7 linked regions of the Homo sapiens genome follow. The protein of the gene in region 1 purifies or fractionates together with the protein of each later gene. This does not show direct contact. Each region holds a gene or a part of one and is shown in the gene's direction. Other genes may lie near its edges.

Region 1 (3,500 bases):
CTCCAATTATGCTGATTGGACATAGCATGGGTGGTGCTATTGCAGTCCACACAGCATCATCCAACCTGGTACCAAGCCTCTTGGGTCTGTGCATGATTGATGTTGTAGAAGGTGAGTTTTCTTAGCACTGACCAAATCAGGATTTCACTTATAAGAGACATCCTTGGTAGATTATTACCTTGTCTTAGTTTATTGTTGATTTCATTCATCTTGAAATATGTCCCTCTGTCTTTATATCTTTTTTAAGTTTATACAAGATAACCATTTTTCCATGTCATCAAAAACTCTTCATTAACATCTTTTTATGGCTGCATAATATTTCAATCCTATGTATGTCCCATAATTGTATTTAATCATATAAAAAGAAGCTGCCATGTCTTTTCTGACCCAGCTTCAGAAGTCACACTGCTGCTTGTGAATACAAGTCATCCTCTTCAGTGTGAGGGCATGACATAAAGAAGTGAATACCCCAGAGGCAAAAATTATTGAGGGCCATCTTTATTTCTCTGCGAGCATCACTAAATTCTGCTGTCATCAAGAGCAGATATATAGTAGTTGACTCAGTAAGTGTAAATGCTCAGAATAAGTTAAATATGTGGTTACAGTTTTTGTTTAACATCCAGGTACAGCTATGGATGCACTTAATAGCATGCAGAATTTCTTACGGGGTCGTCCTAAAACCTTCAAGTCTCTGGAGAATGCTATTGAATGGAGGTAACCAACAAATCTTTGTCGCCTTTATTTAATTAATTTGTTTGTTTGTTTGCTTGCTTATTTATTTATTTAGGAGACAAGGCCTCACTCTGTCACCCAGGCTGGAGTGCAGTGGCATGATCCTAGCTCACTGCAACCTTGAACTCCTAGGTTCAAGCAATCCTCCCACCTCAGCCTCCCAAGTTGCTAAGACTACAGGTACACACCACCAAGCCTGGCTAATTTTTAAATTTTTTGTAGAAACGAGGTCTTGCTATGTTGCCCAGGCTGGCTTCAAGTAATCCTCCTGCTTTAGCCTGGCCTCAAGTAATCAAGTAATCAAATTCCTGGCCTCAAGTAATCCTCCCACTTTAGCCTCCCAAAGTGTTGGGGTTGTGGCGTGAGCCACAGTGCCCAGCCACTGTTGCCTTTATTCTAAATGTTAGATTGTAGCTTTTCTTCTTTTTTAGGTCAAGCACCAAGTTCAAGGAATAGAATTTCAGTTGCCACGCCTTATTGTAATAGCATATGAGGAAACATTATATAAACAGCAGAATTTTTTGAACATTTAAAAATATTTTAGATTTGGCTCAGTTGTCTGAAACCCATTGTTTTCCCAATACACTATAGTACCTCCTGGAATCTTAGTAATTATTGATCATCTGCTGTCTAGCTGTTTCTGCCTCTGAGGTAAGAGGTTAGACTAGGTGGTTTCTAAGGCATCATCCACCTCTGATGCTTCATGGTTTTAGATTTACTTTCTGTGTTTCAGATAAAATGGTGGAGAAATGGAAGATGGCTATAGGTTCCATTCCCTCAAATTTATTTGGATTTTGGGTAAATAAACTCAATGGGTAAATAGTTTTTATAAAAATCAGTGACAGAATTCCATTTAAGCAAAGGAATGAATTTATTCATTAATTCAGTTAATCATTTGATAAAGTATTTATTAAACACTTATTTTGTGCTAATGAGTGAAGATTCAGAGATGAATAAAACACTGTCCCTTCCCACAAGGAGATCAGTCTTTGGATAAATGTCTTCATCATCCTATCTTCCTTCCTATTCTTCTAACTCCATCTCCAGTCTCTTCTTCAGAACATTTTCTCTTAAGTTCTCCAAACCACCCAGATGACGCTTTCAGCAAAATTACAAGAGACCTTTAAGTCTCTATTATATTGCACTGTATACCCTTAAGTTTTCCAATACTCCCTTGAGGGATATGGCTCATATTGTTAATTTTCATTAATGTCTGTCTTAATGCCCTTCCTGCATCATAAGGGAAGAAGCTATTCTGTATTTCTTTTCTACTTTCATATAGCATATGGCATACTGCCCTAGCAGGCAGAATATATCTGTTAACTGAATCAGATATCAAGTGGAAATTTAGGACTTGGTAAATATATCCTAGGCGTTTTCCTAGGACAAATGGTCTTATGCAAGAATATGGCTTGTCAGAATGATGTTTGTGTTGGTGAAGTTTCTACCACTTCCTGTTCACTACTGTGATGCAGGATTCCTGTTCTCACAGAAATATCAAAGATCTATCTTGGGCAGATAGCATCAAGAATGTAGCTGCTGCCAGCTTGGCTTGTATCTCAGGTGCCCTGCCTGCTTCCGCAGTAACAACAAGTGAGAAAGTTATTCTAGACTTGGCTCAGTTGTCTAAAGCCCATCCAACTTTTATCCAAACTTTTTTTTTTTTTTTTTTTGAGACAGGGTGTCACTCTGTTGCCCAGGCTGTGGAGTCCAGTGGCATGATTACAGCTCTCACCGCAGCCTTGACCTTCTGGGCTCAAGCGATCCTCCTGCCTCAGCCACCCAAGTAGCTGGGACTACAGCTGTGCACCACGATGCCCAGCTAATTTTTGTTATTTGATTTTTTTTTTTTTTTTTTTTTTGTAGAGACAGGGTTTTATCATGTTGGCTCGACTGGTCTTGAACTCCTGAGCTCAAGCAGTCTGCCTGCCCGCCTCGGCCTCTCAGAGTCATGGGATAAATGGGTATGAGCCACTACGCCTGGCCCTTTTTCCGAACTCTAAAAATTTATTCAGTAAATTTTTTTTTCTAGTGCCTAAGATGTGTCAGTACCTGATCTAAGAACTGGGGGATGAATCAGGCTCAGTTCCTATCATCAAAAAACTGGGGATGCAAACAAGGAAACACATAAACATAACACAATGAAGGAAGCCAGGGGATATACCTAATGCAGCCTGGGTATCATGGTAGGCCTTCTCTTAAAGTAGTCTTGTTTCTTTTGCCAGATACAGGATAGAATAAGGGTTCTGTTTGTTAAATGTTAAGATGTTCTGGGTTTCATGAGAGTCATTGATCTTTCTGAACCTGAAAATTATTATACTATGAGGTATTTGGTAATTTTGTTTTTTATTCTGCTGGATATCTGAATCAAGTTTATGACTGATGGCCATTTTGGCTATTCTAGATTTTTTTTTATGTTGAAATATAAGGCCAATGATTTACTGCTTTTGCTCTCATAGGTTTCCTAATGAGAGGCAGCAGGGGTATAGTCATTAAGAACCTGGGCTTTAGGCCAGGTGTGGTGGTTCACACCTGTAATCCCAGTGCTTTGGGAGGCTGAGATAGGAATATTACTTGAGGCCAGGAGTTTGAGACCAGCCTGGGCAACATAGCGAGACCCTGTCTCTACAAAAAATATATATATTTTTTTAATTAGCTGGGTGTGGTAGCATGTGCCTATAGTCCCAGCTACTCAGGAGGCTGAGGTGGGAGGATCATTTGAGCCCAGAAGTTCAAGGTTATAGTGAGCTATGATCATGCCACTGCAC
Region 2 (3,500 bases), on another chromosome or scaffold:
AAATTCCTGAATAGGGTGAGTCCTTCAAACATTCTCCAAATAGGGTGGACCTTCTTTTAAGTAAAAATCCTCTTTATTTGCTACTTAAACTTTATCGTGAGTCTAACGCGGATGTTGTTTCTAAAGTCAAATATATTTACTAATTTTTGGATTTTGGAGGAATTGTTTTGAGACATGAAGTTTTGTTATTAAATTTCAGTAAACCTCATAGCCTGATGTGCTTCTCCACTTAAGACTGCCAGATGTCATTTCGGACAGCAGGTGTCATTTTCCCTGTCCAGGTTGGCATGAAAGCAGTGCAATAGTGCATTTAAAATAGTTTTTATCATACGAATATCTTTTTTTTTTTTTTTGAGACAGTCTTGCTCTGTAGCCCAGGCTGGAATGCAGTGGCGTGATCTCAGCTCACTGCAAGCTCGCCTCCTGGGTTCATGCCATTCTTCTGCCTCAGCCTCCCGAGTAGCTGGGACTACAGGCACCCGCCACCATGCCCAGCTAATTTTTTGTATTTTTAGTAGAGACGGGGTTTCACTGTGTTAGCCAGGATGGTCTCAATCTCCTGACCTCGTGATCCGCCCGCCTCAGCCTCCCAAAGTGCTGGGATTACAGGTGTGAGCCACCGCTCCCGGCCAATCATACGAATATCTTTTGAATGCCTAGTTCTATAAAGCACCATGGTGGATATTGCAGGAAGTCAAAGGTATTTTTGTTCAGATTTTTAAAAATAAGAGTTCCTGCACTCAGGCAACTTAAAATAATTTAAATGACAGATATAACTGTCTATAGGTAACTGTAATACAGGGTATTGAGGCGCTGACTGTAGATTGACAGCCAGCATGAGTTACTAAGTAAGGACAGTGTTATGAAAGACTCTCGGGTGTAACACACAGCAGCATACTGAGGATCCAACTCAGTGTCTTAAGAAGATGACTATACGCTAGTTTTATGGTTTAAATATTGCTTTGATCCTTTACTTGATTTAGAATTAAGTTACCACATTTTTGGAAAAAAGGTTTACTATTAGATGATACTTCAGTCTTAAAAATGTTTTCATCTATAAAAATGATTCATTCAATATAATTTGGAAAATGAAAAAGACAGTGAAAAAGATATCCTCATCAACCCACCTACCCCAGAATACTCATTGTTATTTATAATGTAATATGTTTCATTCATCTTTTTTTAACCTGGAGTTTTGATTTTCTTTTGCGGTTATAATTATATTGAATATACAGGTTTTTTACTGCTTTTTCATTTGCCATTCTAACAGACATTTTACGGTGTTTCTGGAAACTAAGATTCTGAATGATAGTATAATAGGCTGTCTATTAAAGCCATCACAGTTAACTTTTTTTTTTTTTTTTTTTTGAGACAGTCTCGCTTCGTTGCCCAAGCTGGAGTGCAGTGGCGCAATTTTGGCTCGCTGCAACCTCTGCCTCCCAGATTCTAGGCGATTCTCCCACCTCAGCCTCCTGAGTAGCTGGGATTACAGGAGCCCACCACTCCTTGGCCTCCCAAAGTGCTGAGATTACACGTGTGAGCCACTGTGTCCGTGCCTTTTTTGCTATTTTGAACGGGACATTTTTATATATGGCATTTTTTGGTATTTAGGATTATTTTAATGGCATGATTTCTAGATGTAGAGGTACCAAGTCAGTGGCTAGGAATGCTTTTTAAAAACCCCATAGATATATACTTATATATTTCTAAATTGCTTCCCAGAAAGAGTATATTAATTGATACTCCCTTCAGTAATGAGTGGCTTAATTTTTTAATTGCACCCACTAGGCAGAAAATGCATACTTATTTCAATTTGAATTTTTTTTTTTTTTACTATAAATAGGGTTGAATGCTTTTCCCCTTATGTTTATGAACTTACCTTCTTCCTCTCTGCATTCTGTTCATGCCTTTTTGTCATTTATTTTACTGTATTGATTGGCCTGCAAATAACAGCTTATTTGATGCCTCAGCGTGTCTCTGCATAGGCAAACCAGAGCTGGAGTGATGACGCAAAGGAACCGCCAGACACACTTGGCTCTGCATTTTCTCCTTCACCATCCTCAGGCTGTGCTTATTACTCCCTAATTACAAAATGGGTGATAAGTCTCCAGGCCTCAGGAATGTGTTGCAGGAAGAAAGGGGTGAAGGCCTGTGCTAGCCACATCTGTTCCTGTTCTTCAGGATAGGGAAGAGCTTTCTCAGAAGCCCCCCTCAGGAGAACTCTGTGGCCAGTAGTGTCGCTAACTGTAGCTGGCAAATCAGAGGTTGAATAGCGTTTGAGTCTGCTACAGTTTCTGGAGGTTCTTAATATTTATCCCACTTTTGAAAAGGTATCAAATTTGTCATCTTTGTGATAGTATTTCCTGGACTCTTTGCTATTTTGGTAAGTTTTAATTGTCACATGGTTATGTTTGCTATCATTTCCTTTGTGATTTTTTTAACTACTTTTAAACTAAAGAAACTCTTCACCTGTGGCTATTGCAGTCTGATTCTCTGTGAAGCATAATCTGAGATGGAGATTTGTGTGTATTGTGATGAGTGAATGTAGCATGTATGATACTAGTTTTTTTGTAGTCGAGGTGGTTTTTGCAGTCCAGCATATACTCAGTGTTGAAAAAAAGGAATATTCTTGGTTGTATTAGTCCCAATTAGGTCAAGTTTATTGTTACTCATACAGTCTTTACTATCGCCTGTTTTCTGAGTAGTAGTTGTCTAAGATAGATGTGTCCTAATCATAGTGGACTGAATTTCTTCTCCTTCAGTCGGGTTTTGTTTTACACACCTCAAAACAACATTATAATGATTCAAAGATTCCTGGCTGCTTTATCTCCTTGGAGTGTTTGTTTTTTGTTTTTGAGACAGAGTCTCATTCTGTTGCCCAGATTGGCGTGCAGTGGCATCATCTCTGCTCACTGCGACCTCTGACTCCTGGGTTCAAGCTATTCTCCTGCCTCAGCCTCCCGAGTAGCTGGGACTACAGGTGCGTGCCACCACACCCAGCTAATTTTTGTATTTTTAATAGAGACAGGGTTTCACCATGTTGGTCAGGCTGGTCTCGAACTCCTGACCTCAAGTAATCCACCTGCCTTGGCCTCCCAAAATGCTTGGATTACAGGCGTGAGCCACTGTGCCCAGCCTATGTTTTCTTAATTAATGTAAAATATCTTCACGTGTCTCAATAGTTTCTACCTTGAGTTTGATTTTATGTGCTACTGATATTAACATTATATCTTTTTTGTTTTCTTTTATTTCAAGGCGGAGTTTTGCTCTTGTTGCCCAGGCTGGAGTGCAATGGTGTGATCTTGGCTCACTGTAACCTCCACCTCCCAGGATCAAGCCATTCTCCTGCCTCAGCCTCCCAAGTAGCTGGGATTACAGGCGTACACCACCACGCCTGGCTAATTTTTTGTATTTTTAGTAGAGACAGAGTTTCACCATGTTGTCCAGGCTGGTCTCGAACTCCTGACCTCAAGTGATCCACCTGCCTTGGCCTCCCAAAG
Region 3 (3,500 bases), on another chromosome or scaffold:
TTAAACGCTATATGCTGCCGCTTTATGTATTGCCATTAAAGAGAGACTAAAAATACAAAGCATGGCATGAAGTCCATTTTCAGGGCTTCTATTCTGCAGAGATGATTATACCTATCCTGGTCATGCTATGGTTTCTATGACCTTTCTAATTTGAGGTGGTAGCATGGAAACTAAAGATTTAATTTTGTTTTTAGTTTACTTTTAGAAATCTACTTCCTGCATGCAGTTCTTCAGTATTGGTTCATTCTTTCTTAGTCAAGTTTCTGCTCATGTTGCTTTATTGCAAATGTGTTTTTCAAGGGAACTGATGTTCCTCAGACCATCTTCTTAACTGTATAACACCCCATCCTCCAGGAAACTTTTCTTTTGACTTTACCAAAGGGGTGCCTTATGTATTCCTGATTTTGTGCTTCATTTTCTGTCAGTTACTCTTTGATTGCCTTCCTTGGATTTTCGTTGGCCCGTATAGTAGGTGAACCCCAGTGTTTCAGCCCTTCCTCTTCTCTTCTCATTGTAGGCAGCCTTGATGACTCACTTTTGGCCCTTCACTCTCTTGAACTATAGCTGTGTGTGTCCAGCTCACTGCTAAACACCTACTTAAATGCCCCTTATCTTTTGAACTCAAAATATCTAAATTTCAGCCCATCATTTTTACACCTAGACCAGCCATACCACCCCCTCTTCCAAATTTCCGTCACAGGGGTCCTCATGCAGAATGAGAGTCACTTAACTTTCAGTCATCTTCCTTTTTTGACCAGCACTGTCATTCAAAGTTCTTCCTTCATAATGGTGTCATGACTCCTCCTTTTCTTGTACCCACATCATCTTAGTTTAGGCCTTTTCTATAACATGCCTGAAATAGTGCATTGCTACTGGATCTTTCTATCATTCCAGGTTTCTTCTCCCTCCGCTTGCCTTTGCAGAGTGCTGCCTGACAACCTATCCAGAATATTACTTTGCACACATTAACCTTTTCCTCAATTTCAGGGTACAGGTGTGATGGTGACAAACTAACAGAGACCCTCCATAACTTCATAGTGCCTTCAAGATAATATCCACACCCTTTGCATGCCACACAAACTTCTCTACAACCTGGACGGACTTTATCCACCCTATCTTTCCAGTGTCCCCAATTTACCTATATCAGGATGCCTCTACTAGAGACAGACCAGAATACTTATCTCCCCCTTCATAACTTACCCATTTTTCCACATTTATATATTTTTCATACAATTTATCTGTCTAGAATATAGCTCTATACTCATTTTTACTGTTCTTAGCCATTTTGCAAAGCCCAGCTTCCAGTTAGCCTTTTCCAAAAGTCTTGTAAGACCACCTAGCCCTAAATAATCACTCTTGCCTATAAGGGCCTATAGCTGGGGTGACTGTGTAATTTATCATCCAAACCAGGACATTTTTGAAAGTGAAAGGGTGTGTCATCATTAATAAACAGGACATTGGGAATATACCTGTGCTACCCTGGGTAAACTGGGACAGATATTATTCCATCCATAGCTCATATGTTTGGCCTGCACGTCCCTTCAGCATTTAGCATTTAGTACTCTGCATTGGTGTTAATGCCCTTCTGGATGTGCTGGGACTCCTCAATAAGTCTGTCCTCCAGACTGTTACATTATGCTCATACTTCCACATATCCCCAGAACCTAACATTTTGCCATATATTTTAGTAGATACTAAATTATGTTTGTTAATTAGGATGCTGATGGAACCCATTATTTAGCAGTTTTTCCCTTACATTTTTAGGAGGTGGTTTTGCCAGATAAATATAATGTTTAATTTTTTTTCTAATTTAGCTTATTGACATGTGTGTGCAGAACTGTGGTCCAAGTTTCCAGTCTCTGATTGTGAAGAAGGAATTTGTTAAAGAGAATTTAGTTAAGCTACTGAATCCCAGATACAACTTGCCATTAGACATTCAGAATAGAATCTTGAATTTCATTAAGGTAAGTCTGTTGTATACCTCATGGGATGGTAAATTTCTAAGATTAGGGATTTAATAGCTTACCTCCTGATTGTTTCACTTATCTTTTATATATCTAGGATTGAGCTAGAAAAGCATTTTTGCTATTTTAGTTTCTGTGTAATAATAATTTTTTGGCATTGGATGGTGCCCTTTTTCTGAAGAATTTGTAGTCATTTCCCTGCTTTCCTCTCAGTTTCTATTTTATCTGTGTCAAATAGGAAAGACAGTGATCTGTGTGTTCACTTTGCAGGTAGGGAAACTTCCAGCTAACTGACTAGTTCAAGGTTACTTGGAAAAAGAGCTACTGATGTTATTTTAGAATCTATTAATTTTGGATTCAGAGCAGCAAAAAACAATTGATAGTATATATCCTAGGGTTTCTTCAAGATTTTGAGGCATGGAAATCTGATTTAAAAGATTTTATATTTTCCTAGCCTTTGAAAATGAGCATTTTGCCCATGGCATTCAAAAGTAGCTTTCTCTTTCTGAGTGGGGTACATAATTATTGATCTCTTATTTTCTATCAGGAGCTTAAGAATTGTGTTTTCGGCTGGGTGCGGTGGCTCACGCCTGTAATCCCAGCACTTTGGGAGGCCGAGGTGGGCAGATCACAAGGTCAGGAGTTCGAGAGCAGCCTGGCCAACATAGTGAAACCCCGTCTCTACTAAAAAATACAAAAAGTAAGCCAGGCGTGGTGGCGGGCGCCTGTAATCCCAGCTACTCAGGAGGCTGAGGCAGGAGAATCGCTTGAACCCAGGAGGCGGAGATTGCAATGAGCAGAGATTGTGCCATTGCACTCCAGCCCGGGCAATAGTGTGAGACTCTGTCTCAAAAAAAAAAAAAAAAAAAAGAATTGTGTTTTGGTTTTGTTGCTGTTTTAACTCTGGAACTTTTTTCATCTCTTGAATTCAGACTTGGTCACAGGGCTTCCCAGGAGGTGTGGATGTAAGCGAAGTCAAAGAAGTATACCTCGACCTGGTTAAGAAAGGCGTTCAGTTTCCTCCCTCAGAAGCAGAGGCTGAAACAGCAAGACAAGAGGTAGGAGGCCTTTCTTTGACCCATGGAGACTATAGTAGTGTATCACTTGGGTCTTTTCTCATTACAGGAGACAACCCTAAATCCACCCAGCTTAAGCAAAAAGATGAAGTTATTAGAAGGATATTGCAATATCTCATAGAATAACCGAGACTTGGGATTTTGCTACTTAAAGTGTGTTTTGCTACTAAAAGTATGAAAGTTTGTTTGGCATGTTCCACCCTAGACTAATCAGAACCTCCCTTTTTACAAGATTTCCAGGTGTTTTCTCTGCACATTAATGTTGAGAAGCACTGGCCTAGAGCCTTGAGCTTTCACCTCTCCACCCAAGGTTGGAGATGTGGCATTGACCCAAGGAGGGTCATTGATGGAGAAGGAGATGCCTTGTCAGCTGTGGCTTAAAAGGACTTGACATGAATTGAGCTACCATTTGTTATTAACAACCCAAAGAGAAGGCATCAATAATCTCACATGGCAGTTT
Region 4 (3,500 bases), on another chromosome or scaffold:
TGTCGAACTCCTGACCTCAAGTGATCTGCCTTGCCTGCCTCGGCCTCCCAAAGTGCTGGGATTACAGGCATGAGCCACTGCGCCCAGCCAAGACTCTGTCTAAAAAAAAAAAAAAAAAAAAAAAGATTAAAAAAACATTTTATAATTCTTACCTGGATTCTGGGGAAAAAAAGGAAAAAAAAACCACTTTGTATTTGATAATTTGATCATTTAAAAGAGTTTTGAAATGTTTGTGATCAAAGACTTTCAAGTGACCTTACTACTTGAAAAGATTATGAACCACTGAATCAACAGTGGATGATTTCAGAGCGCTTTCTTGGCTCTGACCTTCTAAGATTCCTTCCTTTTCTGTAAGTGTTCTCCATTCATGATGTCTATCAGTTAACATTATTTGGGTCTGCCTATGAAATGTCTCTTATTTGTCTCCTCTTTAATTCAAGCCCTCATTTTTTCCCTATTGCTAGGTCTGTAGTGTTAGTCTGACTTCTCCTTACCTCTGAAATTCCTTTTCTAGCAAATTCCTTTTCTAGCAAATTCCTTCCCACCTTGTAACCCCAGTGAGCATACATCTCGAGTCAGCTGGTGCTAATCTTTTCCGTGGTTTCCCATTGCCTGTAGTGAGTTTTTAGAATGCCATTTGGGCCCTTTACAGTATATTTCCATCCTACTTTTCCAACCTCACTTTTTTCCTCCACTCCACTTCTTTTCATCTGCTCCAGCTACCATGTGGCACCCTTATTTTTCCTTAAGCCTGACTTGCACTTTCCTAACTTTACTCATACCAGCCTTTCTAACTGAAATACTTTGCTGTCTGTCCATATTCTGTCCATCCTTTTAGGCCCACTAAAGAGCCATCTCCTCCAAAATATTTTTCTCAATTATTCCAGTTGCAAATGACTGCTCCTTAGATCTGCTAAAGGACATTATTGTTATTTCTGTTAATGATAATTGACACTATTACCTATGTTATAGTTCTCTGTGTGTCTATTTCCAGTTTGTAAATTCTTTGAAGGCAGTGACCGCATTTTGTTCATGTCTGCATCCCTCTTAGGGCCCAGCACATAATGCAGTATACGCCCAATTAAATTTGAGACTCACAGAGTTTAGAGTGGCCACCTTGTCCAACCTCTCCTATTAGAGATGAAGAGACTTCCAGAGGTCATACCGCAAGTTGACAGCAGAGATGCAGTAGGAACTGAAGTGAGGCAGAATTTGAGGATTCAGGTCCATGGGGAAGATAGTTTGCTGAATGAAGGAGCAGTGCTTTAGGGAACAATTTTAATGGAATTTAAAGACAGAATAATTCAGAACTGGATACATAGTAGATACCAACTGCACCTTGTGGGAATAATTCTCTGGATAGTATCTGGCAGTCTTCAGATACTTTGCTGTTATCCTGGCTAAACCACATAAGTTGTTGTGTGTTGGTTCACAATCTGATCTTGCAGATGTAAGTTAGAATCTTGACAGTTTTTTTTGAGAGAGTTTAAGTCCTAAGATTACTGCTTTAGAACATGAAAATCAAACAAGACTAATTTTAAGCATTAACTCTTTGGCTCGTTGGCAAAGAAGGGTCACATAGGATCTGAAATTTGTGCACTGTGCAGTTTAACGTACCACTACTTTTTTTTAAACAGCTTTCAAAGGTATAATTTATATACAATGAACTGCACTTAATAAAACGTACAAGTTGGCAAGTTTTGACATATGTATATACCCATGAAACCATCGCCACAATTAAGATAGTGAATGTATCTTTCACTCCCAGAGGCTCCCTCATACCCCTTGCTAATCTCTCCCTGTTTCAACCAGTCAACCACTGATCTGCTTTCTCTCACTGTAGATGAACTTGCCCTTTATTTTGGCCAGACATGGGGGGAAGGGATCATACAAATGGAGTCATACATTATGTATTCTTTTGTTTGGTTTCCTTCACATAGCATAGTTATTTTGAGATTTATCTATGTGGCATGAATAAATAGTTCATTCCTTTTTATTGTTGAGTGTAAGTCCATTGTATGAATGTACTACAGTTTTTTATCCATTCCCCTGTTGGTGAACATTTGAGATTTGAATTGTTTTCTGTTTGGAGATATTACAAATGACAGTGCCGTGAGCATTCATGTACAAGTCTTTACATAAAAATATTCTTTCTTTTCTCTTTGAGTAAATAGCTAGGAATGAAATGGCTAGATGGTATGGTAGGTGTATATTTAACTTTTTAAGCAACTGGCAAACTGTTTTCCAAAGTGGTTATAGTATTTTACATTTCTACCAGCAGTGTATGAGAGTAGATCATAGACCTAAATATAAAACCTAAAACTACAAAACTTCTAGAAGAAAACAGGAAAAAAAAATGTATGACTTTGAGTTAAACAGACTTCTTTAATATGACACCAAAAGCATGATCTATACAAGAATAAATTGAGCTGGGTGTGGTGGCTCATGCCTGTGGTCCCAGCTATTCAGGAGGCTGAGGTGGAGGCTACAGTGACCTGTGATTGCTCCACTACACCAGCCTGGGTGACAGAGAGAGCTTGTCTAAAAAAAAGAACAAAGTGATACAAAGTAGAATTAATCAAAATTAAACATTCGGTTCTTCAGGCTAGGTGGTGGCTAACGCCTGTAATCCCAGCACTTTGGAAGGCTGAGGTGGGCGGATCATGAGGTCAGGAGTTTCAGACCAGCCTGACCAACATGGTGAAACCCTGTCTCTACTAAAAATACAAAAATTGGCTGGGCGCGGTGGCTAACGCCTGTAATCCCAGCATTTTGGGAGGCCAAGGTGGGCAGATCACGAGGTCAGGAGATAGAGACCATCCTGGCTAACACAGTGAAACCCCATCTCTACTAAAAATACCAAAAATTAGCCAGGCATAGTGGCAGGCACCTGTAGTCCCAGCTACTCGGGAGGCTGAGGCAGGAGAATCGCTTGAACCTGGGAGGCAGAGGTTGCAGTGAGCCAAGATCGCACCACTGCACTCTAGCCTGGGCAACAGAGTGAGACTCAGTCTCAAAAAAAAAAAAAAAAATCGGTTCTTCGAAGGTTACATACAGTTAAGAGAATGAAAAGAAAAGTCACAAATGGAGAAAAATCTTTGTGAAGAATATATCTGATAAAAGACTTCTTTTCAGAATATGTAAGGAGCTTTCAAAACTAAATAGCAAGAAAATAAATAACCCAATTAAAACATGGGCCAAAGATTTGAACAAGAAGTACAGATGGGGCCAGGCATGGTGGCTCACACCTGTAATCCCAGCACTTTGGGAGGCCAAGGCAGGTGGATCACCTGAGGTCAGGAATTCGAGGCCAGCCTGGCCAACCTGGTGAAACCCCATCTCTACTAAAAATACAAAAATTAGCTGGGCTTGGTGGCAGACACCTGTGATCCCAGCTACTCGGGAGGCTGAGGCAGGAGAATCACTTGAACCCAGGAGGTGGAGGTTGCAGTGAGCCAAGATCACGCCATCGCACTCCAGCCTGGGCAACAGAGCGAGAC
Region 5 (3,500 bases), on another chromosome or scaffold:
CCACTGCACTCAAGCCTGGGCGACAGAGCGAGACTTCATCTCAAAAAAAGGAAAAAGAAAAAAAAAAGAATCTTGGTGAACTTTAGATTTATTTGCTGGGGTCTTTTTGATGAATTGGAGTTTAAAAATATTCTTCCCTGTTTGCCGGTTTTTTTCCTAATTTGGATAAGGGAATCTTTGTACAGGGAGGGACTGTTCCAGTTTTACTGTCATATATAGTGTGGGTAAATACCTGTCCCAGTACACTCTAGTGATTACTTTTGTTTGTAAGAAATGAGAAGGTGAAAAGAGCAGGTTCATGGCATTCTCTTAACTTTCTCCTGTAAAGATCTTTTATGAACTTTAGGAACTGTATTGTTTAGAAAAATTATAACTTACTGTCTATACGTGGGACAAAAACCTTGCTTCTGTTGTAGTATGTTTGGAAGGAGACAATAAAGTAGTTGGTGATACCGGTGGTTTTGTGCTAATATGGTTTTCTATTGTGTATTTTACCTAAGTACATATTAAGAAAAGAAGAAAAAACATTAAACTTTACCATGATAGTTTCCGGGGAGATTTATTTTCTTTGCTAAAAACAGGACTAACGAAAAGTGAATAGGGAGAACTAGCTAAGTGGCACTCATATCTCTACCCTGATTCCCTCTTGTTTTCTGGGTGAAGATTGTGAAACAGATCCCTTCAAACCAGTGGCCAGCTACACTTCAAGTTGTTAAAATTGTCTGATTCTAATTTCCTCAAGTTATGTTCCAAACTGTACTCTCATTAACTCAAGATATTTGTGGTGTATCTTCATGTCTTTCAAACAGACATTTATATAAAACACTAATGAATCATTTTTTTGGAAGGAAGTAGTAGGATACTAAGTCCTATTTCAATGGCCTTTTTAATGAAGTGCAAATGAGAATCTCTCTAGAATGATTGTTTCTCAAGTAGAGAAAAAAAGATGAGTTTACTAATTTTGGGAAATTCACTGTAGTTTCCTCTTGGAGATTTCCAGTGCATGTTAGCATAGTATATTAATAGTTTCTGAAGTCTTGTCATAAAGACACCTATTTTTAAATTTTAATTGTGTATTTGTTTCCTAGGACTACCCATAACAAATCACCACAAACTAGGAGGCTTAAAACAACAGACATTTATTCTCTCACAGTTTAGGAGGCCAGAAGTCTGAATTCAGTGTTGGCAGGGTCATATTCTCTCTGAAGACTCTAGGGGAGGATCCTTCCTTGCTTCTTCCTACTATCGAGTGGTGGCAGCATAGTCCAGTCTGTCTTTGTGTTCACATGACCCTCATTCCCCTGTGGGTATCTGTGTATCCAAATTTCCCAGCACTTGGAAGGATACCAGTCATTGGATTAGAGCCCATCCTAATCCAGTATTACTTCATTTTAACTTGATTACATTTGCAAAGACCCTTTTTCTCCCCAGAGATTCTGGGTGGGCATGAAGTTTTGGGGATACTCTTCGACCCAGTACATTAAGTGAAAAGAGAGTTGTAATAATCACTTATATCTTTGCACATTCTGAGATACAGAATATTCCAGAGAACACACTTTGAGGAAAACACGTAGAACACAGACCTTCCTATAATCTTATATCTTGTCCTATCCATCTGGGGAGTTGAAGTGGGCAGGAGAAGGGCCTGAAACTAAGTGGGAAATGGAAAGAATGTTACTGTTCTAAGTGCCTTGCTTCTCATACTAAAATGTAATTTCTACATTTGAAATGTAATTGCTGTATTATTTTTACCTCTTTGTTTCCAGAGTTGTTTATATATTTGGCCCACCAGTTAAAGAACCTCCTACAGATGTTACTCCCACTTTCTTGACAACAGGGGTGCTCAGTACTTTACGCCAAGCTGATTTTGAGGCCCATAACATTCTCAGGGAGTCTGGTAAGTTGCTCATGTTTTTGATTACTACCCTCTGAAACTAGTTTTTGGAAGCTTGATATTAAGAGTAGGAGGATGTGGCTTTTGCTTTTTAGATGCTTTTGTTTTTATTATTTAAATCTTTGAATGTTCTATGATGTTGCTTTTTTTTCTTGAGACGGAGTCTGTCTTGCTCTGTCGCCCAGGCTGGAGTGCAGTGGCACAATCTTGGTTCACTTCAGCCTCTGCCTCCTGTTACAAGTGATTCTCCTGCCTCAGCCTCCCGAGTAGCTGGGATTACAGGCACCCGCCACCACACCTGGCTAGTTTTTTGTATTTTTAGTAGAGATAGGGTTTTGCCATTTTGGCCAGCTGATCTCGAACTCCTAACCTCATGTGATCAGGTCAGGAGTCAGGTCAGGCCAGCCTTGGCCTCCCAGAGTGTTGGGATTACAGGCGTGAGCCACTGCACCTGGCCTATAATGTTGCTTCTAAATAAAATATATTCCCCTTTGTGGCCATTTGTGGACATGCACAGAGCAGCAGAAAATTTGAATTTCCAGACTTAGATGTTCCCAGCTGAGTTTGAACAAGGTGACGCTATGCCTTCTTGTTTTCAGCTCTCATAATGTGAACAAGTCTTTTTCATGGTCTCCTTGATGCTATATCTTTTGCATTTTTATGTCTTTTGTTGGTGATTTTGCTGTTTAAAATGGATCTCAACTATAGTGTTGAAGTGCTGTCTGGGTTCCTAAGCACAGGAATGCTGTGATGTACCTTACAGAGAAAATCTGTGTGTTAGATAAACTTCATTCAGGCATGAGTTAAAGAGCTACTGATTGTCAGTTCAGTGTTAATGAATCTATAATAAATATTAAATACAGTGTCTTAAATCAGAAACACATAAAACAAGGTTATATATTAATCAGTTGATGAAAATATTACAACCAGAGGCTTGCAGGAACCTAACCCTCCATTTCCCCTGGGAGAAATGGTTCAGTATTCGCTAATTCGTTGTTTGCAGTGTAGAATATAACTATACTGCAAATTATAATAGAGAATAATGAGACTGGACTGTTTCTGTTTACAGCACATCAGTGAAACATCACTGATGTGATCAAATTCTGTTTTTTGCATTTGTGATTAAGTCCATTTAAAATGCTCTGCGAGTAGCTGAAATCAATGCATGATGACAGTCTTAACTACGCTGTGTGTGTATATGTGATTTCAGATATTGCCTGGGAGGATTTAATTGAACTGAGTTAGAGTGCTTTTCTATGGTGTGGTGATTGGTTCTACATATACCTTTCTCTAGGGTATGCTGGGAAAATCAGCCAGATGCCGGTGATTTTGACACCATTACATTTTGATCGGGACCCACTTCAAAAGCAGCCTTCATGCCAGAGATCTGTGGTTATTCGAACCTTTATTACTAGTGACTTCATGACTGGTATACCTGCAACACCTGGCAATGAGATCCCTGTAGAGGTAATTTATATATTTTTTTCTAATGCACGTTCTCAGTACCTCTTACATTTTATAATATGGTGAATGGAATAGGCTATGCCAGTGCTGTATTTCTTATGTTGGTTTTCTGTTCATAAGATAGGCTTTTTTTTTTAAATTT
Region 6 (3,500 bases), on another chromosome or scaffold:
TCCTCCAAGGATGGTACATAACTAGTGCCAATTCAGATGCAGAGGGGAGAAGTTAATTCATTCCATACAATGGATGTCTTGGGCTTAATTCTCTCCTGGGAACCCAGGTTAGTTGGACTGCATATATGGCAAAGTCTTAAAAGGATTTTGCTTTGACTGGCTTGTGATGTTTATCTAAAAAACTTTTTTTTTTTTTTTTTTTTTTTTTTTTTTTTTTTTTTTAGATTACAGGTCCACCAGGTTGTGGAAAAACTCAGTTTTGTATAATGATGAGCATTTTGGCTACATTACCCACCAACATGGGAGGATTAGAAGGAGCTGTGGTGTACATTGACACAGAGTCTGCATTTAGTGCTGAAAGGTATGAGATTTTATTTTCTATTATAATGTTTTACTTTTGTAACTTATATACAGCATGAAACATTTACACATAGGTTAACATTTACCACCCCTCCCCCTTGCCTTTTTTTTTTTTTTGAGATGGAGTCTTGCTCTGTTGCCGGGCTGGAGTGCAGTGGCACGATCTGGGCTCATGGCAATCTCCACCTCTTGGGTTCAAGCGATTCTCCTGCCTCAGCCTCCCGAGTAGCTGAGACTACAGGTATGCACCACCACACCTGGCTAATTATTCTATTTTTAGTAGAGACAGGGTTTCACCATGTTGGCCAAGCTGGTATTGAACTTCTGGCCTCAAGTGATCTGCCCACCTTGGCCTCCCAAAGTGCTGGGATTATAGGCGTGAGCCACTGTGCCTGGCTTTTTTTTTTTTTTTTTTTTTGAGATGGAGTCTCTCTCTGTCGCCCAGGTTGGAGTTCAGTGGCAGGATCTCAGCTCACTGCAACCTCCGCCTCCCGGGTTCAAGCGATTCTCCTGTCTCAGCCTCCTGAGTAGCTGGGATTACAGGCGCCCTACCACCAGGCCTAGCTAATTTTTGTATTTTTAGTAGAGACAGTGTTTCACCTTATTGGCCAGACTGCTCTTGAACTCCTGACCTTGTGATCCGCCTGCCTTGGCCTCCCAAAGTGCCGGGATTACAGGTGTGAGCCACTGCGCCTGGCCTAAATTGGTCTTTTTATAAATGTATCCCAGTAGTAAATGAATAAGGAATGATAGAATATCACCAAATTACAAACTCTGACAATCTAATGGATCTAGGCATTTAACATCACAAAAAGATGACGAGTCACTGGGGTACTTTCTGATGGAAGAACAATCAAATTTGAATGTGATCAAGGCTTCAGATCCAGCCACCAATTTACAACCTAGCTAGAGAAGAGAGGAACACATCAAACTGCTCTAGAAAATGCAATTAGCAGAATCCAAACTGTGGGAAATAACAGAACAAACAACTTGGTTTCTGTAACAAATAAATTGTAAGATTAAAAAATAGTTGGAAGGGGAACCTTTGGATTAAAACAGATTTAAAAGCCTTATTGATCAATTGCTGTGTGATTAACTTATTTGGATCTTGACTTAAATAAATGGTTAAAAAAAAGAACAGAAGAATAAACATTGAGACTACTGGAAATTTGAACATGAAAATATATTTGAGATTAAAGCTGGTAAAGACTGGTTCACTCAAATTGTCCAAGTACTCTTTAAAATGCCAATGACTAGCCTTCGACTAACAAGCCAAGTAGGTATTAAATAGCCAGTTATGTCATAAATAGCTAATGTTCAAATAGCTCTTACAAAGGTCCTGGGGAATTTGGGTAAAGAATTCAAAGATTAAGATTATTTTTATAACAGCAGTTCAGTTCACTGTAATGGATTTCTGCTTTCTTTGCACCACATACAAAACAGAGTTTAGGATGTCTTCTTAAGGAGGAAACTGTTGCATGTTATTTTATTACCAGTATTACAGTTCAGAGCAGTGTAAAAACCTTATCAATGAATTGGGTGATATCAGCATACATACAGAAGACTAGCAGGTGACTTGTCTGCATTTTCCAAATGAATTTGTGGAGAGTCTTATGTTTTTTGTCTTTGCATAGAGCCTTAATTATTTACTTTTTGAATCCCCCATATTTACTTATTTCTCCTTCATATCTTTTTCTGCCAATGTGCATGTTGGTATTTACATCAGAGGCAGGTTGGAAAATGAAGAGGTAATATTTTAGCTCCTTTGTTGGAATTACGTTGCATAGTTCACAAGGAGCTCTTATGAAGGTCATTTGAGAATAGGGGTTGAACTTTATATTGTATTTGGTTTTTTATTCCATTCTCCACAAGGCTTAAAATGAGTGATCATCTGGCTCACACATGGAATGGATTTTGAGGTCTGGTGATAGGGCCAAGTAGAATAAAAAATATGAATGCTCTCCGATATATATGCCAGATTTGGCATTCTTATACTACCTTCTAGTTTGTCATGGTGGGTCATAGAATGGAACTGGCCCTGTAGTGTCTGATCACATTTCATTCATTCTGTTACAGGACAGCTTAACCCCTATTTGGAATTATCAGGAAAGGTTGGCCAATCGGTTAGGAAAGCTTACTGCTGCAGATAACTGAGTATCCAAAGAACAGTAGCTTAAACAAAAAGAGGTTTATTTCTCTCATATAACAAGACCTGAGTAGGTGGTTGCTGGCACTGGGTCACTCAGGTCTCAGTGATGACAGAGAGACCTAGGGCATGCACATTTTCAGACATCGGATTCATTCTGTGCTCAAGTCAGTGTGAAGAAAAAGGGCCAGCTATATCTTTTATCAGGAAAGTGTACTTTTATTCATAATATCTGCCTCCTCCCATCTGTGGATTTCCTTTTTGTTGCCTGTAGTCCTCTTGTAGATTTCTCACTGAGTCACCTCTATATGTAAAAAGAGGCTGGGAAAGTGAGGGGAGAAGATCGTCGTAACAATCATGATGAGTTGTCTGGTTAATATTGCTGCCTGAATAAAACTGGGGCTCTCATAGCGAGGAAGAAGTGGAAATGGATATTGGATTGGTAATTAACAGTTTCTGTCCCAGCCCCAGCTGTTTCTGGACTTAGAGAAGAGGTAAGGCAGGGAAATATGAGACGCAAAAAGGACTATGTTGTAGCTCTGTATGTGTTCACATTGTCTCCACTTTGTGCTTGCAAAGCTAGCCGGCTAACCAGCACAAATGAGAAAGTGTTTAAAGGATTAATATGATGAAGGATTAAAGGATTCACATATATAGAATTTAGGGTACGTGAGAAAAAGTTGAAAATAATTTCTTCCTATAAATATCTAGATATCTTTTTACTAAGAAGGAGAGAGAAATCAAAGGAGGAATAAATACAAACTACTTAGGTTTAAAATGTATTAAAGAGGGAGGAGCCAAGATGGCCGAATAGGAACAGCTCTGGTCTACAGCTCCCAGCATGAGCGACGCAGAAGATGGGTGATTTCTGCATTTCCATCTGAGGTACCGGGTTCATCTCACTAGGGAGTGCCAAACAGTGGGCGCAGGTCAGTGGGTGCCCGCACCACATGCAAGCCGAAGCAGGGCGAGGCATTGCCTCACTCGGGAAGCG
Region 7 (3,500 bases), on another chromosome or scaffold:
TTGTCCCCATCTGTGTCTCTCCTCTCAGACTGTGAACTCCAAGGGAAGGAGCTATGTTATTCTGCATTGCTTCTTTCCTACCTCTGTGTACTTGTGCAGTTGGTTCATAGTAAATGCTTCTGGGAAGACACACTATGGGCTCAGTCTCCCTTTCAGGAATGATTATAATTGTGGGACCCACAGGGAAGGTGGTTGGAAGCTGGTAACTTGACATTTAGAGCAGCAAGAAACAGGATTTTCTAAGTCCTGAAAATCCTGGGAGAGGAAGGAAAATTTAATGGGGAGTTCCCACCTTTTGCCTAACTCCTACTTCTTTAGTTCTTAGATGGGATGTCGTTTCCTTAAAGCAGCCTTCTTTGACCACCCACCCCTATCCCCAGGACCTCGCGAGGGCTTCTGTTAGTTGCTGTTTTGGCACTCAGTACCTGGTAGCGCTGGTAGCACCTAACCACAACTGTCATGAAATAATTCCTTGTGAATTCATTGTTTTATCGGCTGTCTCTTGTGTTAGCACGAGAGCTCCATGAGGCTCTCATTCACTCCTGAAGGGCCTGACACAGCAGAAGCACCCAGCATTTGAATGTATTAGTGAGTGAATGAGTGAACGAGTGAATGAACAAATGCACCAATTTCACATTAGAGCTGAAAAGGACCTTAGGGTCTAACGTTATCAGTTCATAGATGGGAAAATGAAGCCTGAACAGGTTAAGGAGTATGCTGAGACCAACTGCTATGATTTATCCACTGCCTTTCAAACAAATATGCCTAAGACAATGGGTCTATTACAAGCAATCTGGGAAAGGAGGGTGTTGAGTTCACCTTGGGCTGTTTGGTGAAACGCTGCTCAGGGTTCACAGGTATGAGATGGCAGCAGGAATTATCCATGATTTTGTAGAAATGTACCCACGTCTGGTATGGCAGGGGTATGGGGAAAAGTTGGAGCTAGGATGTGAGGCTGTGGTCTTCAAAAGCTGTTTGGCACAGTCCTTCCCTTGCCCTTTTTCTTTTGAGATGGAATCTTGCTCTGTCGCCCAGGCTGGAGTGCAGTGGCGCGATCTTGGCTCACTGCAAGTTCCATCTCCTGGATTCACGCCATTCTCCTGCCTCAGCCTCCCGAGTAGCTGGGACTACAGGCTCCCGCCACCACGCCTGGCTAATTTTTTGTATTTTTAGTAGAGATGGGGTTTCACCATGTTAGCCAGGATGGTCTCGATCTCCTGACCTCGTGATCCACCCGCCTCGGCCTCCCAAAGTGCTGGGATTACAGATGTGAGCCACCGCGCCCGGCCCCCTTGCCCTTTTCTTGTCCGGAATTTTGGGCTCTTCTAGCCAGCTTTGCTCTGTCAGGCATTTGCCAGAGCCTTTCTAATTGATCTAATAGTTATAGCAGCTGACATTTATTTTATAGAGCAGTTACTTTGTGTTAGTTTCCTAGGGCAGCCATAATAAACTACTACAAATAAGCCCGGCATGCTGGCTCACACCTGTAATCCTAATGCTTTGGGAAGCTGAGGTGGGAGAATTGCTTGAGGGCAGGAGTTTGACACCAGCCTGGGCAACATACAGAGACCCTGTCTCTACAAAAAAATAAAAAATAAAAAATTAGCTGGATGTGGGGGCATGTGCCCCTGTACTTCCAGCCACACGGGAGGCTGAGGCGGAGGATCGCTTGAGTCCAGGAGTTCAAGGCTGCAGTGGGCCATGATCGTACCACTGCACTCCAGCCTGGGTGACAGAACGAGACCTTGTCTCAAGAAAACAAAACAAAACAAATTATTACAAATTGGGTGGCTTAAAACAATAGAAATAGGCTGGGTGCGGTGGCTCACACCTGTAATCCCAGCACTTTGGGAGGCTGAGGCAGGTGGATCACCTGAGGTCAGGAGTTTGAGAGCAGCGTGGCCAACATGGTAAAACACTGTCTCTACTAAAAATACAAAAATTGGGCTGGGCATGGTGGCTCACACCTGTAATCCCAGCACTTTGGGAGGCCGAGGCGGGTGGATCACCTGAGGTCAGGAGTTCAAGACCAGCCTGACCAACATAGTGAAACCCTGTCTCTACTAAAAATACAAAAATTAGCCAGGCGTGGTGGCACATGCCTGTAATCCCAGCTACTAGGGAGGCTGAGGCAGGAGAATCGCTTGAACCCAAGAGCCGGAGGATGCAGTGAGCCGATATTGCACCATTGCAACCCAGACTAGGCAACAAGAGCGAAACTCCGTCTCAAAAAAAAAAAAAAATACAAAAATTAGCCGGGCGTAGTGGTGGCGCACCTGTAATCCCAGCTACTGGGGAGGCTGAGGCTGGAGAATTGCTTGAACCCAGGAGGCGGAGGTTGCAGTGAGAGGAGATCGTGCCATTGCACTCCAGCCTCGGTGACAAGAGGGAAACTCTGTCTCAAAAAACAAAAAACAAACAAAAAAAGAAATACATTCTCTCTCAGCTCTGGAGGCCAAAAGTTGTAAAATTAGTGTCGGCAGGGCCATGTCCTTCTGAGGTTCTAAGGAAGAATCTGTTCCACATCTCTCTCCTAGATTCTGGTGGCTTTTGACAATCTTTGGCATTCCTTGTAGATGCATCACTTTAATCTCTGCCTCTGTCTTCACACAGCATTCTCCTCCATGTGTCTCTGTCTCTGTCCAAATTTTCCTCTTCTAAGGACACCAGTCATATTGGACTTAGGTTTCACCCCAATCCAGTATGATCTCATTTTAACTTGATTACATCTGCAAAGACCCTGTTTCCAAGTAAGGTCACATTCACAGATTCTAGGTGGACATGAATTTGGTGAGGGGAGGGGGTAGGGGACTGGATACTGTGCAACACTATGTACCAGGCACTGTGCTAAGTACTTTGCATACATTGTCTCATTTAACCTTCACAATACTCCCCTGAGATTCCTTTATTATTATTATTCCCATTTCACAGATGAAACTGAGGCTTAGAAATGTTAACTGGGCACAGTGGCTCACGCCTGTAATCCCAGCACTTTGGGAGGCCGAGGAGGGCAGACCACCTGAGGTCAGGAGTTCGAGACTAGCCTGGCCAACATGGTGAAACGCTGTCTCTACTAAAAATACAAAAATTAGCCTGGCATGGTCCAGCTACTTGGGAGACTGAGGCAGGAGAATTGCTTGAACCTGGGAGGTGGAGGTTGCAGTGAGCTGAGATTGTGCCACTGCACTCCAGCTTGGGGGAGAGAGCAAGACTCTTGTCTCAAAAGGAAATGTTAAGTAGCTTTTATTCAGCCAGTAAGGCAGTAAGGCAGAGCTGGAATTCAACCCAGGTCTGTGTGACTCTGGAGTCTCTTGTGGTCTTGAATGAAGTGATACTGCTGGCTCTAAGATTCTAGAAGTGAATCCTAGAATGGAAAGGAGCCTTGGGAGATCAGGTGAGACCCCACTGACCTGCCTCTGCAGGTAAGGGTCTTTCTTGATCTGTCCTTGGAAAAAAAAATTCAATGTCCTCACGCCTGTAATCCCAGCATTTTGGGAGGC

The links.
Region 2: the proteins of PPME1 (region 1) and TDRD1 purify together in Homo sapiens (affinity purification with mass spectrometry, with the first as the bait; one study listed by BioGRID). This does not show direct contact.
Region 3: the proteins of PPME1 (region 1) and TOM1L1 fractionate together in Homo sapiens (co-fractionation; one large-scale study listed by BioGRID). This does not show direct contact.
Region 4: the proteins of PPME1 (region 1) and PSMD5 fractionate together in Homo sapiens (co-fractionation; one large-scale study listed by BioGRID). This does not show direct contact.
Region 5: the proteins of PPME1 (region 1) and GMPS fractionate together in Homo sapiens (co-fractionation; one large-scale study listed by BioGRID). This does not show direct contact.
Region 6: the proteins of PPME1 (region 1) and RAD51B purify together in Homo sapiens (co-immunoprecipitation; one large-scale study listed by IntAct). This does not show direct contact.
Region 7: the proteins of PPME1 (region 1) and PPP2R5D purify together in Homo sapiens (affinity purification with mass spectrometry; 3 studies listed by BioGRID and IntAct, with this or other methods). This does not show direct contact.

The regions. Positions count from the first base shown.
Region 1 is NC_000011.10:74,230,289-74,233,788, forward strand, and holds part of PPME1 (protein phosphatase methylesterase 1), read left to right. Parts: coding exon 1-111; intron 112-623; coding exon 624-714; intron 715-3,500. UniProt on the Homo sapiens protein: Demethylates proteins that have been reversibly carboxymethylated. Demethylates PPP2CB (in vitro) and PPP2CA. Binding to PPP2CA displaces the manganese ion and inactivates the enzyme.
Region 2 is NC_000010.11:114,182,353-114,185,852, forward strand, and holds part of TDRD1 (tudor domain-containing protein 1), read left to right. Parts: exon of another isoform or gene 1-15; intron 16-3,500. UniProt on the Homo sapiens protein: Plays a central role during spermatogenesis by participating in the repression transposable elements and preventing their mobilization, which is essential for the germline integrity.
Region 3 is NC_000017.11:54,910,852-54,914,351, forward strand, and holds part of TOM1L1 (TOM1-like protein 1), read left to right. Parts: intron 1-1,814; coding exon 1,815-1,964; intron 1,965-2,896; coding exon 2,897-3,022; intron 3,023-3,500. UniProt on the Homo sapiens protein: Probable adapter protein involved in signaling pathways. Interacts with the SH2 and SH3 domains of various signaling proteins when it is phosphorylated. May promote FYN activation, possibly by disrupting intramolecular SH3-dependent interactions.
Region 4 is NC_000009.12:120,836,423-120,839,922, reverse strand, and holds part of PSMD5 (26S proteasome non-ATPase regulatory subunit 5), read left to right. Parts: intron 1-3,500. UniProt on the Homo sapiens protein: Acts as a chaperone during the assembly of the 26S proteasome, specifically of the base subcomplex of the PA700/19S regulatory complex (RC).
Region 5 is NC_000003.12:155,933,150-155,936,649, forward strand, and holds part of GMPS (GMP synthase [glutamine-hydrolyzing]), read left to right. Parts: intron 1-1,766; coding exon 1,767-1,897; intron 1,898-3,188; coding exon 3,189-3,361; intron 3,362-3,500. UniProt on the Homo sapiens protein: Catalyzes the conversion of xanthine monophosphate (XMP) to GMP in the presence of glutamine and ATP through an adenyl-XMP intermediate.
Region 6 is NC_000014.9:67,864,779-67,868,278, forward strand, and holds part of RAD51B (DNA repair protein RAD51 homolog 2), read left to right. Parts: intron 1-9; exon of another isoform or gene 10-107; intron 108-224; coding exon 225-361; intron 362-3,500. UniProt on the Homo sapiens protein: Involved in the homologous recombination repair (HRR) pathway of double-stranded DNA breaks arising during DNA replication or induced by DNA-damaging agents. May promote the assembly of presynaptic RAD51 nucleoprotein filaments.
Region 7 is NC_000006.12:42,991,070-42,994,569, forward strand, and holds part of PPP2R5D (serine/threonine-protein phosphatase 2A 56 kDa regulatory subunit delta isoform), read left to right. Parts: intron 1-3,500. UniProt on the Homo sapiens protein: The B regulatory subunit might modulate substrate selectivity and catalytic activity, and might also direct the localization of the catalytic enzyme to a particular subcellular compartment.